Homo sapiens: one gene and its partners. The protein of the gene in region 1 purifies or fractionates together with the protein of each later gene. This does not show direct contact. Each region holds a gene or a part of one and is shown on either strand. Other genes may lie near its edges. The genes, in order: ART4, PIGU and GPM6A.

Region 1 (3,656 bases):
TGGGGAAGGATCCTATTTTTGTCATTTGTAAACTATGAATAATTTTACGCAAATCCCTTAAGCTCTCTGAATCTCAGCATTCACATCAGTACAGCGGAGTCAATAACCTGACTTACAGGGTGATTGTGAAAACTAAACAGATAATGGGTGTCCAAGCGTTTTGTAAACTAAACTGCCAAACAAATATCATTTTATCAGTGTATTATAACCTGATTTTGGTCATCTCTGCCTTAGGGTATAAAGTCTGGAAGAAATACATAATGATTATAACTTTTATTTCATGAAGTCTGAATCTGAATTTTATCAGACTGTTCAGAAGTAAATAGTCCTTAAACAGAAAAAGGTAAAGCTGACGTGCAGTATACCAAGTCTAGTGTTTGAGGCAAATGCTATCTATAGCCTCTTTCTGTCAAAATGCAAGGAGCAAGAGTGTTAATATTGTAGAATATTACCTAGCAAAAACTTAGCACCCGAAAATGAAAAGCGTTATTCCTTCTGCCTCTTCCTTTGTTTCTCTTCTTACTATCAATTTCACTGAAGCACATGCTTGTGCCATTAAACCATTATCCCACTTCCATGTGCAAAGTACTTTCCCAGAGTTTCTCAGTTGTGTTTGAAAGGAGGCAGAGACACCAATGCTATCACAACATTCCCACAAGATGAGTATCACTTCCATTTTATAAATGAAGAAACAGGCTCAGAGGTTAAGTCATTTGCACAAGGTCACCTAGCTACTAACATATACCCAAATCTTTCTGGCTCCAAAGTTTATTCACTTTCCACCATGCCGTGTGGTCTCCCAGATTTATTCAATGACTCATTCTTTCATCCATTTATCTGAGACAGACACTCTACTTCAAGGTCATTGTGATGCCACAAATAGGGTAAACTAATTTTAGATAATTGAAGCCCAGAGTAAAAGAAAACAGGCAAAATAGAAAGCTAATAAAATAAATAATAATAATGATAATAGTATCTTAAAAGTTTTGAGTACTTAACATTTGTCAGATACTATTCTAAGAGATTTTACATGCATTCATTCATTTTCTCCCCACTAGAATCGTACAGGTTTTTAAAAAGTGAAGTTTACATGTAAAACCAGGCTGACTACAAACAATTGCCTATATTTCTCTAGAAACATGTTAAGAATTTTGATTATGTGAAACATTTTAACAAATAAATCCCTGTTCTTTGTGAATCCAATGATATAGAACAGAGCATGTATTTGTGTGTCTACAGATTTTTGGCATAGGTTATTTTGCTGAAAGAAGCAAGATTTAAGGGCAAATAACTAACATTCTGTTAACATATTTTGAGTCTTCCAATGGGCATGAAGACACCTGTTTCTATGGCAACCAGTACAGGTCATGTGAGGGGTGATGGAATAATTAGAGAGGAAAGCTGTTAGTTTAGAATGACAATTTTTCCTTTTGCAAATTTACTTCCTTAAATAGTATAATTCTATTAATTTGATCTCTTGTCTCTCTAAAAGCAACAGATTCCTGGAAACTCTTTAAACTTGAGTTACATGCTAACAGGACTGATTTTAGCATAAATTGAAGGACTGGAGAAGCTATGCTCTTAAATATACTGTCTCTTCTTTGGGAGAATTACAGTATGCTGCTGGGTAATTTTAAAGGTCTTCAAGTGGTCTTTCCAGTATCACGTCTGTCAGATTGAGAGGGAACAGGAGAGAAAACATAATTCACTTGGCTTATAGGGACTTCTGGGGACACAGAATAGCTTGTGGCTCCTGCTCATGAAACAAAACGAAGCTGAAAGAATGAGAAATAGTGTCCAGAGAAGATTACAGTTTCGTGAGGAGTTAGATATCAGTGTTCCAGAACACCATCTGTGAATTCCCTAGGCTGGGGTTAGTGGAGCAGTGAAGTGGGAAATGGTAGCTATCTAGAAAGTTGGGTCTGGGGAGAGTCCACTGATCTTACTTCCTCCCTGTTAAGGATCCCAGATAAGAAAGACACACTACCTCCTTCCTCTTATTGTTCATGTATGGCTCAGTCCAATACTGCTCCAGAATGTTGGGGTAAGTACTACTTATCAGTTAAAATAAATCACTTTAAGGACCTTTCTGATGTTCCTTCGCTTACTGATTGAGAGAAAAACAAAGAAACAAAGAAACAAACAAACAACACTGTAGCGAATAACTGAAAACATTCTGAAGGCAATCAAACTTTTTTTTTTTTTTTGACGGAGTCTCATTCTGTTGCCCAGGCTGGAGTGCAGTGGCGCGATCTTGGCTCACTGCCACCTCTGCCTCCTGGGTTCAAGTGATTCTACTGCCTCAGCCTCCTGAGTAGCTGGGATTACAGGCTCGTGCCACCACTCCTGGCTAATTTTTGTATTTTTAGTAGAGACGGCTTTCACCATGTTGGTCAGGCTGGTCTCGATCTCCTGACCTTGTGATCCACCTGCCTCGACCTCCCAAAGTGCTGAGATTATAGGTGTGAGCCACTGCACCTGGCTGGCAATCAAACATTTTTTAAATCATAAGAGATAGATATTGTGTCCTGTCCAAGACTGTATTCAGTAGTGTCCCTTTATCCTTAGTGGATACATTCCAAGACATTCAGTGGATTCCTGAAACTACAGGTAGTAGTGAACCCTATGTTATTTTCATATGTGTATGTATGTATATACATATATATATATATCATCAATGATAAAGTTTGAAGTGTGGCAGCAAAACTAGCATGAATTTCTTTTTCCTTCTTCACAATTCCACAGGTAGAAGATTCATTTTTACAGTAGATCTTAGCAACCTCAGCATACAATTTTTTCTTTCTTTCTATTAAGTTGAGAACTTTAAACTTTTCATTCAAAGGAGGCGCTTTCTCTTGGGCATATCTGAATCTCCAAGATCACTATTCTTTCACTTTGGGGCCATTATGAAATAAAATGAGGGTCACTTGAAAACAAACACTGCAGTACCGAGACAGCAGATCTGATAACCGAGAGGGCTACTAAGTGACTCACAGTGTAGACTGTGGATGATTCACATCCCAAGAGGGAAGGCACAAGATTTCATCACACCACTCAGAATGGCATACCATTTAAAACTTAGGAATTCTTTATCTCTGGAATTGTCCATTTAATATATTCTGCGGGTAACTGAAACCAGAGAAAGCAAAACCATAGGTAAGGGGGCATTACTGCAATTTTTTGCCCTCAACTAAATGACTGTGATGCTAACTAGCCAATGGCAGATGAGGCTTAGGTAGGTCAGGTAGAACCAGAGGATGGACCAGCCTTCTCTGCAACCCTTAGTCAGAGTCTGGGATCAAAGGAAGAAAGGCATCCCTGCAATGTGAGCTTATTCCTCTCCTTCTTTTACCTTCCCAGATAGTTTCGTAGCTGTGGAGGGTGAGAAAATGCTCCAATTCCAGCTCTTGGCTGATTATATGATGCCTCTGACCTATCTCTTCCCTCTTCACTTCAATTTATAAAGAAAATATTAAGTTGAGAACTTTAAACTTTTCATTCAAAGGAGGCACTTTCTCTTGGGCATATCTGAATCACCAAGATCACTATTCTTGCACTTTGGGGCCATTATGAAATAAAATGAGGGTCACTTGAAAACAAACACTGCAATACCGAGACAGCAGATCTGATCACTGAGAGGGCTACTAAGTGACTCA
Region 2 (3,656 bases), on another chromosome or scaffold:
TAAGGCAGAGCATGAAGAGCTGAAGTTAGCAAGTCATTGTTATGCTCAGCCAGGATTTAACACAAATAAGCAGTCCAGAATTCCAAATGGGAGTTCTGCCACTCAGATCCCTTCCACACATGCACAGGTTTAAGAGTCTGTCACCTATTGGGCTGTGAGCTCCCCAAAGCTTAGGGAGCAACCGAGTCTTCGGCACCTATGCAGAGCCTGGCACGCAGAGGGCATTCGGAAATGTTTATAGAATTCATGAATATAAACTCAGACAAGCCTGCAATACTCAAGTCCATTTGAGTTTTCCCTCAAGGTTTGACGTGTGGCAGGTGGCATTATTTTCAAACTGTCAGAGGCCCTCTTGCACTAGAGGAACACATCCATTCCTGTTTAGAATTGAGCCCAAACCTCCCAGTTAGAGGCTGGTATTTGCTTTGGATGTTCCCAGGGAGTGCTCTTTAACCCACTTATGCTGGAGGTTGCAAATTTTTTTGTGTGAAAAATCAGACCTTGGCGATGACCTTGAGCAGTAGGACGTAAATAACTCCCACAAGCTTCGTGTTCCAATAATAGAACACTAGGCATAAATGGGTTAATCCCACCATATCAAAGGTGTGTTTCAGAGTACAGGTTCTCAAAGTGTGTTCCCTAAACCAGCAGGCCAACAGCACTGGCATCACCTGGAAACCGGAGAAATGCAAATTGTTGATCCCTCCCCAAGACCTACTTAATCAGAACCTCTGAGGGTGGGCCCAGCAATCTGGGTTTTAATAAGTCCTGCAGGTGATTCTGATGCACCTTAAGGTTTGAGAACCGCTGCTATTTAATATAAAGGCTTCCTGTGGTCCCTCACCCTCTGAGTCCAGCTAGAGCTATGAAAACCAAATTAGCTTCCAGAGTTTTGTCGGGGGGGTTTTAACTGACAACATATAGTTGTACGAATTTATGGGTGATTTTATGTGATGTTATGATTTCTGAATACTATGTAGAATAATTAAATCTAGCTAGTTAACATTTCCATCACTTCAAATATTAAACATTGTTTGTGGTGGGAACGATTGAAATTTACTCTCTTAGCAATTTTGGTATATACAATACTCTATTATTAACTATATTCACCACACTGTGCTAGTACTCAAGAAAAGAAAAGAAAAAAACATATTCCTCCTGAGATTTTGTACCCCTTTGACCATTATCTCCCCATTCTCCCACCCTGCCGGCATCGGTAACCACCCTTCTACTCTCTGCTTCTATGAGCGTAATTGTTTTAGAGTCCACATATAAGTGAGAACACATGCGGTATTTGTCTTTCTGTGCCTAGCTCATTCCACTTAGCATCAGATTCTCCAATTCCATCCCTACTACTGTCATAAATGACAGAATTTCCTTTTTTAAGACTGAATAGTATTCCCCTGTGTATATATACCAAATTTTCTTTATCCATTTGTTTGTTGATGGACATTTAGATTGATTCCATAACTTGGCTATTATGAATAATGCTGCAATGAACATGGGAGTGCAGACAAATCTTCAACAAACTGATTTCAAAAATTTTGAGTCACCTGCAATCCCAGCACTTTGGGAGGCCAAGGCAGATGGATCATTGAGACCAGCCTGGCTAACATGGTGAAACCCTGTCTCTACTAAAAATACAAAAATTAGCCGGGCGTGGTGGTGCATGCCTGTAGTCCCAGCTACTCGGGGGGCTGAGGCAGGGGAATCACTTGAAACCAGGAGGTGGAGGGTGCAGTGAGCGGAGATGGCCCCACTGCACTCCAGACTGGGCAACAGAGCGACACCCTGTCTCAAAAAAAAAAGAAAAAAATCCTTTAAGTAAGTAGCCGGAAGTGGGATTGCTGGATCAAATGGTAATTCTATTTTTAGTTGTTTGAGGAATGTTCATACAGTTTTCCATAATGGCTGTACTAATTTACATTCTTGACAACAGTATACAAGGGTTCCCTTTTCCCCACAGCTTCTAGAATTTTCTAACGTGGTCATTACTTACATAAAGCCATAGACTGCGGGGATGAAATCCCAAGAGCTGAGAAGGAAGAAGGAGAGGCAAATGATTACCACTAGGCTTCCCACATACATCATGGCATACTCCCAAGAAAAGATCCAGAAGGCTTTGCTCTTCATTTTCACAGGTATGTACTGCCGCTGGAGAGAAGGCAAAGTGATATAAACTTAGGGATGTAAACAACAGAGGGCAGCTATTAGCTTACACTTAAAGATCCCTCCCGCAAAACCATACTATGATACACAGGTTTATAATTTTGCTTTGGTCTTTAATTAACTAAGAAGGATGTAAGTGTTAAAAAGGTATTACGGGTGCATCCTCTGACCTCAGACCTAGTAACACCATTTCTAGGTATGTATCCTGGAGACAAGTTGCAGAAGATACAAATGGAGGAAGATTCATTGCACCATTGTTTGGAATATCAAGAAAAAATCCTTCAATAGAGGAACAAATAAATTGTGGTATATTGACATATGGTATACTATTTGCCAGGTTAAATGAATATATTGTATCTATAAATGTCAACATGGCTAGATCTAAAAAATATGAGGTTAGTTATAATAGAAAATTGCTAAACAAGCCTATTATATGAAAATACTTATGTGTTCTGAGATTATACCAAATAATACTATTATTTACACACACACACACACACACACACACACACACACACACACACACATCTGTAAGTTTCATAAAACATAGATTAGAAGGACATATACTAAAGTTATGATAGTATTAGCCTCCTGGGAACCAGAGAGGAAAATATAATTGGAACCTAAGAAACTTCATATAACCTGGCATTCATATGCAAAATGAAAAGAAATAAACAAGTAAAAAAAGACTTTAAAAAAACGCCAAATTTGGGTTAAAAAAACTTCAACTTTATCTGCTTTCCTTTGTTTGAGACAGAGTCTTGCTGTGTCGCCAAGGTAGAGTGCAGTGGCACGATCTCGGCTCACTGCAACCTCTGCCTCCAGGTTCAAGCAATTCTCCTGCCTCAGCCTCCCAAGTAGCTGGGACTGCAGGTGCGCACCACCACACCCAGTTAATTTTTGTATTTTTAGTAGAGACGGGGTTTCACCATGTTGGCCAGGATGGTCTCCATCTCTTGACCTCGTGAATCACCCACCTTGGCCTCCCAAAGTGCTGGGATTATAGGCGTGAGCCACTGCACCTGGCTTTTTTTTTTTTTTTTTTTTTTTTTGAAACAGAGTTTCGCTCGTTGCCCTGGCTGGAGTGCTACGGCGTGATCTCGGCTCACTGCAACCTCCACCTCCCGGGTTCAAGGGATTCTCCTGCCTCACCCTCCTGAGTAGCTGGGACTACAGGTGCCTGCCACCACGCCCAGCTAATTTTTATATTTTCAGTAGAGACAGGGTTTCACCATGTTGGCCAGGCTGGTCTCAAACTCCCGACCTCAGGTGATCTACCCGCCTTGGCCTCCCAAAGTATTGGGATTACAGGCATGAGCCACTGCGCCTGGCCTCACATATTTTATTAAGTATGACAACAGCAATTATGAAACAATATAGCAAAAATCTTAATATCTGTTTAGTTTGGGCAGTAGACATATGGCTATCATTATACATTTTCTAAATTTTTCCTCTCTTAAAAATGTTTTCCTCAAAAAAAAAAAAAG
Region 3 (3,656 bases), on another chromosome or scaffold:
GATAATTATACAGAGTATGTCTTAAAAATACTAATCTAATATGCTGTGGCCAAATCTACAAACACCTGAGGCTAATAAGACAGATGTTTTAAACTAAACAAATAGAATAAGGGTTGAAAATCCTTTGTCTGAAATGCTTAGGGCCAGAAGTGTTTTGAATTTCAAATTTTTTTTAGGTTTTGTAATATTTGCATTAACTTACCAGTTGAACATCCCAAATCCAAATACCCCAAATCTGCAATGCTCCAATGAACATTTCCTTTGAGCATCACGTTGACGCTCAAAAAGTTTCACATTTTGGAGCATTTCAGATTTGGGATTTTCAGATTAGGATATTCAACCTTTTATGTTTCTTTATCTCTGAAACAGGGTAACAATAGCAACTAGTTAATTTTGTTTCTTTAAAACTTATATATGGAAGAACATTACTGTTATCATAAGACTGTTATGAGTTGAATTGTGTCCTCACAAAATTCATATGATGAAATTCTACCACCAGTGTCTCAGAGATTGACCTTATTGCTCTTTACTGAGTTGAAAAAGTAAAAAATTAGGTCACTAGGGTGGGCTCTATTCCCATATGACTGCTGTCCTTATAAAAAAAGGGGAAATTTGGACACAGCTTTTCAGGCAGGAAGAACATCATATGAATGTGAAGGCAGTGATGGGTGAAACTTCTATAAACCACTGGATGCCAAAAATTACCAGCAGCCAACCAGAAGGTAGGGGAGAAACATGGAACCGGGTGTTCTTTACAGCCCTCAGGAAAAAAAAAAAATCAACCCGGTGACACTTTGGTCTCAAACTTCTAGCTTCCTGAACTGTGAGACAATGAATTTCTGTTGTTTAGGCCATCCACTTTATAGCACTTTGTTGTGGTAGCCCTAGCAAACTAGTAAACACACTTCCAAAAGTTATTATTGTTTTATTTAACTCTTAGAGCAGGTAGATTTATGGAAAATACATTTATTGAAAATTCCATAGAGTTTAGTACATTTGGGAAATCTATTACTTCGAAAGTGTTGCATTTAAAAATCTAAATTTCAGAAGAAGTATAGATAAATTCTGAGATCCATAATGATGTCACAGTAGCAATCGGAAATTTGTAGAAATAAGAAAATTGGGGATGGGGGCAAAAAATATCTCAAGATTTGAAAATGTGACACACTGAAGGTCTCCTAATTTGCAGCGGAATAAATATGTTTTGGCTTAAACTTTAATAAGAAAATATGGTTAAAGAAAATAAATACTTCTACATTAAACTTAAAAAGGTCATGTTCAATGTAGTCAATAACATGTATTTGTACTCAATTTGGTGCCATTTAATATTTAAGGTAAATAAATTTTGTTACTTAAAATACTTTAATAACTTTTCATATAATGTTTTAATAAAGTCGTTAATAATGATTTTCACCCTCAAAATTTAATATTGTGGTTTTACGTGCCTCAAATTCTGGATTTTGAATGACAGATAGCATTAAAATATTGTAATGAACTTGAATTGGTGCTGATACCGCATGAAAGGAAACACAGAATGCAGACCAAGTTATGCTTTCAAAGGCATTCATTAAGTAAAGGGAATATTGATTATCACTCTCCATTCAGTGATACAATGTTGCTTCATTTTTTTTTTTTTTTTTTTTGAGACAAAGTCTTGCTCTGTCGCCCAGGCTGGAGTGCAGTGGCACGATCTGGGCTCACTGCAACCTCTGCCTCCTGGGTTCAAGCGATTCTCCTGCCTCAGCCTCCCAAGTAGCTGGAATTACAGGCGCCTGCCACCATGCCCGGCTAATTTTTTTATTTTTAGTAGAGACAGGGTTTCACTATGTTGACCATGCTGGTCTACGAACTCCTAACCTCGTGATCCGCCTGCCTCGGCCTCCCAAAGTGCTAGGATTACAGGTGTGAGCCACCACGCCCGGCCTGCTGCTTCAAAATTAATTGCATTTGTGCTGATATAATTTCAATTAGTAACCATTTACTTTTTATGCAGCAGAGAGAAACAGGGATAGAATAACAAATTTCTGTTAGTATTAACTAAGGAAGATTTTTATATACTTGTTGCAAAAAAAAAAAATCCACCCTTTAGTATTATTCAGTGTTCCAACTAGAGCTGCACCGATATAGTACCTTCAAAAGCACAGACTCATTCACAGCTACGGAACACAGGCAAAAGAGGTTAACAGGTTCACTTTGAACATAATAAAGTAGACCGTAAGATACAATCTGCCTACAAACGAAAAAAAAAAAAAAAAAAAAAAAAAAAAAGCAGCATCAGTAGAGTGGAAATAAGTAGCAGGAGAGGGTGGACGATAAATCTTTCTTTTCCCCTCGATTTCATGGAGCTACAAGTCCTGCGTGATATGCAAGCTGAGGTGGGGGTGTGGAGGAATGGTTGGCAGAGGGGAAGGGAGGCAGGGTTCTGCAGCGCTGGCTGCAGCCGCCACTGTTTACTTCTCAGTCGTGGAGCTAGCCCCCTTCGTGAAGGCAGTGTTGGGACAGCCAGGGTATGGCTCAGAGCCTCACCCGCTGCTCTGCTGTCTCTGCAGAACGCAGAAGAATGCAGCTCCTACTCCTGTCTCTGCTCTGCTCATTCCGGGGTGTCAGGGAGGTGTTACAGGAGTGGGCGGGGCATCTTGCTGGGCTGACACCCTGCTGCATTGCCTCTGGAGGAGCCCACGCAGCAGCTGCTGCCACCCTTCTGGTCTGTTGGGTGGGACTGGTGACACAATTGTTACCATTATAGAAAAAAAAAAAAAGAAAGAAAGAAAACGTGGCTCATGTTTTGCTTCGAAAATTCCTATTTGAAATACCTTTAAGATGCTTGAATGGCAGGCAGATAACCAAGTGCATCTCTCTCTATATATAGATATGCAATTCTTCCTTGATTGCTTTGTCTTTTTATTATGAAGTTATTTTCAAATTCTGAATGAAATAACACAATTGACTGCACTCGTCCTGGCAGAAGGTTATTACCTTACGGTAAAGACGTGCTTTCAGACCCCCTTATCTCTTTATTTTTTCGTTAGGGTTTTAGAATCACAGACTCGTTGAGCTGGAATAAGCTTTAGAAATGATCCTCATTTTGTAAATGAGGAAACTGTGATCCATAAAAGGTAAGTAACTTGCCAAGGCACACCAGTGGCATTACAATGTTACTGTTCCAATTGTAATAAAAAGCCAATTACTATATAACTCAATTCACTATACTCTATTGACAGAAGGGAAATGAATCTTAAAATCGGAATTTGCCTTTTTACTGGAGAAATTGCTTGGGCATCACTGAAAATTGGACCACAAATTAGTCATATTTTATTTTTTCATCAATCCAATATCTCTCTGTAACTAAGTTTCCCTGGATCTATAATTCGCTATTACTGATTTAAATAATTTCAATAATAAGGCACAATTTAAAGCCCCTTAGTCACATTATTGGGATTCCAGTTTTACTCCTACTCATATATTTTATCTCTTTGGGTGTTACAATAAGTTTTGTCCCAAACTAAAAACAGATGATTCTTATAAGAAATAATTCCAGAGACCACTACAAATACCCACAACTCAGGCAAACTATCTTATCAGATTATTGTTGCTGTTGACACCAAGAAGCATAATAAAATGTGTTAGAAACAGGTTAAAATAAAAAAGGTTTGCTG

The links.
Region 2: the proteins of ART4 (region 1) and PIGU purify together in Homo sapiens (affinity purification with mass spectrometry; one large-scale study listed by BioGRID and IntAct). This does not show direct contact.
Region 3: the proteins of ART4 (region 1) and GPM6A purify together in Homo sapiens (affinity purification with mass spectrometry; one large-scale study listed by BioGRID and IntAct). This does not show direct contact.

What each region holds. Positions count from the first base shown.
Region 1 is NC_000012.12:14,833,419-14,837,074, forward strand, and holds part of ART4 (ecto-ADP-ribosyltransferase 4 isoform 1 precursor), read right to left. Parts: intron 1-3,656.
Region 2 is NC_000020.11:34,586,454-34,590,109, forward strand, and holds part of PIGU (GPI-anchor transamidase component PIGU), read right to left. Parts: intron 2,155-3,656; coding exon 2,000-2,154; intron 1-1,999. UniProt on the Homo sapiens protein: Component of the glycosylphosphatidylinositol-anchor (GPI-anchor) transamidase (GPI-T) complex that catalyzes the formation of the linkage between a proprotein and a GPI-anchor and participates in GPI anchored protein biosynthesis.
Region 3 is NC_000004.12:175,669,239-175,672,894, forward strand, and holds part of GPM6A (neuronal membrane glycoprotein M6-a), read right to left. Parts: intron 1-3,656. UniProt on the Homo sapiens protein: Involved in neuronal differentiation, including differentiation and migration of neuronal stem cells. Plays a role in neuronal plasticity and is involved in neurite and filopodia outgrowth, filopodia motility and probably synapse formation.